2 separate regions of the Homo sapiens genome follow, and region 1 is linked to region 2. A link means that fine-mapping ties the variant in region 2 to the expression of a gene that starts in the linked region. Tissue or cell type: pancreas. Region 2 holds a variant in brackets; the other region holds the start of a gene. All regions are shown on one strand. Distances are from middle to middle.

Evidence for each region. PIP is the estimated chance that this variant, and not a neighbour inherited with it, causes the effect.
Region 1: GTPBP3 starts here. The variant in region 2 is fine-mapped to the expression of GTPBP3 in pancreas (GTEx, PIP 0.95).

Annotation. Positions count from the first base shown.
Region 1 is chr19:17,336,267-17,338,870 of GRCh38, forward strand. GTPBP3 (GTP binding protein 3, mitochondrial) reads left to right here and starts at 1,287. Exons shown (of 9, transcript NM_032620.4): 1 at 1,287-1,398; 2 at 1,742-1,989; 3 at 2,099-2,185; 4 at 2,273-2,475. The coding sequence starts at 1,346. RefSeq lists enhancers at 256-927, 928-1,599, 1,600-2,271.
Region 2 is chr19:17,369,955-17,372,709 of GRCh38, forward strand. The region is part of intron 1 of PLVAP (plasmalemma vesicle associated protein); the gene reads right to left. Among named protein-coding and RNA genes, the nearest start is that of PLVAP, 6.0 kb to the right of the region's middle. The variant C/T (reference allele first, on the strand shown) is at 1,056.

The sequences.
Region 1 (2,604 bases), 34 kb before region 2:
GGCAACGTAGTGAGATCCCCGTCTCCACCAAAAAAACGAAAACAAAACAAACAAACAAAAACAACAAACAAAAAGAAACACCGAAAAGTTAGACTGGCATGGTGGCTCGCGCCTGTGGTTCCAGCTACTCAGGAGGCTGAGGCGGGCGGATCCCTTGAGCCCAAAAGTTGGAGGTTGCAAGAGCCGTGATCGCGCCACTGCACTCCAGCCTGGGCGACAGAGTGAGACCCTGTCTCAAAAATAAAATAAAATAAAATAATAAAGTAAATAAAAATATTGAGCAGGGCGAGGTAAGGGGGTATTAGAACTCTATTCTGTCAGACAGATTTTTCTTAACACGCAAGTGCGCCGCCCGCCCGCTCTGATCCAGAACCAGAGAATCCGCCATGCGAAGGCGCTCCCGGAGACCCCGCCCAGCCAGTGCCTGGAATTCCACCATCAGCGCTTTATTCCGAGTTTCAGTGCTGTCCTGGGTTAACCTGAAAGCAATCTCCGAGGCTCCCCTTTCTGGCTTTCGGGGAGCCAGAGACTGACCGGACACTTGGCTCTGCAGGTGCAGACCTGGACCAGAGAGACAGAGAGCCAAGGAAGTCCACAGTGGAGAGAGGGCTGTGCTGGGGGTTCCAGGAAGACTTCCTGGAGGAGGGGATCTTGGAGCTAGGCCTTGAAGACGAGTTTGTCAAATGAGGAAGGGCATCCGAAGCCGAGGGAACGGCAGAAGGGAACGCTGGGGAGGGGAGAGAATCTGGAGAGTTCCGGAAAAAGCAAGTAGGACTCTTTCCAGAAGTTCGGGCAAGATTTTCCCTGGATCAGGGCGTGGGTTCTCCAGTACTCGTCCCTCCCGGTCACCGAGATGCTCTGAGTTTCCGGTCTGAACCTGAACGTAAAGAGGTGTAGTCCCTCCTTTCTTGAACGGGAAAACTGAACGCACATAGGTCCTTGCCACGCCTAAGGCTGCGGAGTGAGCAGATGGAAAATGCGGGACTCAAAACCTCCCCTCGCTGTAATTTGCACTGCCCTGTGCCAAACTCTGTCCTTTCTTCCATTCCTTATTCCTATTGTCAGCCTCGCTGCGCTAGGACCCTAAAAATTTGGTCTCATGTTGCCCGGGGAACAACATTTCGCTACACCTACCTCCATACCGCCTCCCGCTCCCGCTCTCCCTTGCACCAGCCAATGGAAGCGAGTATCTTCAGACGGTGGGCAGGACGTATCCTAAGATACCCAATGGTGGTCGAGAATAGTTGAGCACTTTACTAGTCAAGCCGCGGAGTGGGCGGGGCCCCCTGCCCAGACTTGAAGCCACACAGGCAGGTCGGGCAGGCGGGTCGCAGGTTGTAAATCCATGTGGCGGGGGCTTTGGACCCTGGCGGCCCAAGCGGCACGTGGGCCTCGCAGGTGGGGCTACAGGGGAAGGGGTGCGACAGCTTGGGGTGCTGCTTGGACCCCAGACCCACTCCCTGGGTTTTAGGGGCCCAATTCCCTGCGGCAGAGCAATCATTCGCGTTCTTCCGTGCCTCAATCGTTCATGACCCTTGCGGCAGAGCCCATATCTGGGTCTCCTTCTGGCCTCACAGTCCCTAATCCGGTCACCCTTCGGCCTTCAGAACATCCAATTTGTGCATCCCCCAGCCGCAGAACCCCCCCACCTGGAGCATCTCGCGATCATCGAGCCCTCGGTCTACTTGACACTGAGGCTGAGCCTCCCAGGTGCGCTGATTCGCCTCCCCTCCGGTTCCAGATTGTGCACGCGCCGGAGCAGCGGCGCACCAGCCCCCGGCTCCGGCGCCACCATCTTCGCGCTAAGCTCTGGCCAAGGCCGCTGCGGCATCGCAGTGATCCGGACCAGCGGCCCCGCCAGCGGCCACGCCCTCCGAATTCTCACAGCACCCCGAGACCTGCCCCTTGCTCGCCACGCCAGCCTGCGCCTGCTCAGCGATCCCCGCTCCGGGGAGCCTCTGGACCGCGCACTGGTGCTCTGGTTCCCAGGTGAGGGTCCCCAGGTTCCGAGCCTCCTGTAGGTCCCATGACTCAGTTTCCCCCTTCCAAGGGTTTGCACTGGCTGTGCTGTCCTCCTGTCACCTGTCTGTCACATTAGGTCCCCAGAGTTTCACCGGTGAGGACTGCGTGGAGTTCCACGTGCATGGAGGCCCGGCAGTGGTGAGCGGCGTCCTGCAGGCCTTGGGTGAGTTGCAGCGTTGGGTGAGATGCTTGGTCCTCCCAATGGGCCTGGGTGGGGACCAGGGGGTGTCAGACTGGGACCTTCCTGCAGGCAGCGTGCCAGGGCTTCGACCGGCGGAGGCAGGCGAGTTCACCAGACGGGCGTTCGCCAATGGGAAGCTGAACCTGACCGAAGTGGAGGGGCTGGCGGACCTTATCCACGCGGAAACAGAGGCGCAGCGGCGGCAGGCCCTCAGGCAGCTGGACGGAGAGCTGGGCCACCTCTGCCGTGGCTGGGCCGAGACCCTCACCAAAGCAAGTCCCCCATTTGTCCATTCTCTCCCTCAGAGACCCCATCTGTGCAACCCCTGCATGAGACCCCCTCTCAATCCCGCATTCATTCCCTGCGTGAAAGCTTCCGGCCTATGAGCCGCCATTCTGGCC
Region 2 (2,755 bases):
ATCACACCATTGCACTCCAGCCTGGGTGACAGAGCGAGAGTCTGTCTAAAAAAAAAAAAAAAAAAAAAAAAAGAAAGATATTCAAAATCATTAGCCATTACGGAAATGCAAATCAGGACCACAGTGAGATACCACTACACACCCACGAGGGTGGCTATTTTAAAAACCCATAAACCCCCAAAATGAACAGTAACAGGTGTTGATGAGGATGTGGGGAAATCAGAATTCTCAGACAGTACTAGTGAGAATGTACAATGTTGCAACGGCTTTGGGAAAGTCTGGCAGTTCCTCAAAATGTTAAACATAGTTACCACGTGACCCAGAAACTCTACTTCTCAGCATATACCCAGAGCAATGGAAACACATCCTCACATCAACTTGCCAGGAATGTCCACAGCCGCTCGATTCACAGTAGCCAAAGGTGGAAAGAACCCAAATGCCTGTCAGCAGATGAATTAACGCACAAAATGTGTTCCTTCCATACATAGAACATGATTCAGCCATAAAAAGGAAGGAAGCACTGATCCATGTTGCAGTGTGTGTGAACCCCAAAAACATGATGCCTAAGTGAGAGAAGCCGGACACAAAAGGCCACAGAATGTGAGATTCCACTGACATGAAATGCCCAGAACAGGCAAATCCATAGAGACAGGAAGCAGGTTGGTGGCTGTCAGGGATTGGGGGAGGGGAATGGGAAGTGACTGCTGATGGGGACGTGGGTTTTCTTTTGGGAAGGTGAAAATGTTCTAAAATAATGTTCTAAAATGGATCGTGGTGATCAATGTACAACTCTGTGAATTTACAAAAAAATCATCAAATTGGCTGGGCGCGGTGGCTCACGCCTGTAATCTCAGCACTTTGGGAGGCCGAGGCGGGCGGATCACGAGGTCAGGAGATCTAGACCATCCTGGCTAACACGGTGAAACCCCATCTCTACTAAAAATACAAAAAATTAGCCAGGCGTGGTGGCGGGCGCCTGTAGTCCCAGCTACTCGGGAGGCTGAGGCAGGAGAATGGCGTGAACCTGGGAGGCAGAGCTTGCAATGAGCTGAGAT[C/T]GCGCCACTGCACTCCAGCCTGGGCGACAGAGCGAGACTCCATCTCAAAACAAACAAACAAACAAACAAAAACATCAAATTGTACACTTTAAATAGGTGGATTGTAAAATACATGAATTATATATCAATAAAGCTGTTTTTAAAAATTATTTATTATTATTATTATTATTGAGATGGAGTCTCGCTCTGTGGCCCAGGCTAGAGTGCAGCGGTGTGATCTCAGCTCACTGCAACCTCTACTTCCTGGGTTCAAGTGATTCTCATGCCTCAGCCTCCCAAGTAGCTGGGAATACAGGGGTGCACCACCATGACCAGCTAATTTTTGTATTTTAGTAGAGACGGGGTTGCACCATGTTAGCCAGGTGGTTTCGAACTCCTGACCTCAAGTGATCCACTGGCCTCAGTCTCCTGCCTTGACTTCCCAAAGTGCTGGAATTACAGACGTGAGCTGCCACGCCCGGCCAGCTATTTTTATTTTAATTTAATTTTATTTTTTTTGAGACATGGTCTCACTCTGCCACCCAGGCTGGAGTGTGGTGGTGTGATCACAGCTCACTGCAGCCTCAGCCTCCCCAGGCTCGGGCAATCCTCCCACCTCAGTCTCTCAAGTAGCTGGGATTACAGGCACGTGCCACCACTCCTGGCTAATTTTTTATAGAGATGGGGTCTCACCATGTTGCCCAGGCTGGTCTTAAACTGCTGAGCTCAAGCAATCCACCCACCTTGGCCTCCCAAAATGTTGGGATTACAGGTGTGAACCACCACGCCTGGCCAGCAAAGCTGTTTTTAAAGAAAGTGTTCACAATTTAACAAACTAAAGCCATGCCTTTCAAACTTTGGAAGAGAACCCTCTGCAGAAATATAATAAGACATGAAGAATCAGGAGAGTTTGTCTTTCTGCAACTCTCTGTCCTTCATCCTTTTGCAGTTGGCCCTGGGTGAATGTCCTGGGGGGACATGGGGAATGCCTTCTGTTCTCAAAAGCCTTAGTCATTAGGAGGCTGAGGTGGGAACACTGCTTGAGGCTGGGAGTTCGAGACCAGCCTCGGCAATGTAGTGACACCATGTCTCTAAAAAAAAAAAAAAAAAAAAAGGATGTGATTTTTAAGTTTCTTTTTTAATTTTTAGTTTATTTTTTATAGAGAAGAGGTGTCTTGGGAGGCTGAGGCAGGTGGATCACCTGAGATCAGGAGTTCCAGACCAGCCTGGCCAACATGGGGAAACCCCATCTCTACTAAAAATACAAAAAATTAGCTGGGTTTGGTGGCGGGTGCCTGTAATCCCAGCTACTCGGGAGGCTGAGGTAGGAGAATCACTTGAACCCGGGAGGCAGAGGTTGTAGGGAGCTGAGATTGCGCCACTGCAATCCAGCCTGGGCGACAGAGTGAAACTCTGTGTCAAAAATAGTAATAATAATAATAAAATAATTAAATAATGTTTTTATTTATTTATTTATTTATTTTTTGAGACGGAGTCTCGCTCTGTCGCCCAGGCTGGAGTGCAGTGGCGCAATCTCGGCTCACTGCAAGCTCCGCCTCCCGGGTTCATGCCATTCTCCTGCCTCAGCCTCCCGAGTAGCTGGGACTACAGGCGCCCACCACCACACCTGGCTAATTTTTCGTATTTTTAGTAGAGACGGGGTTTCACTGTGTTAGCCAGCATGGTCTCGATCTCCTGACCTAGTGATCCACCCACCTCGG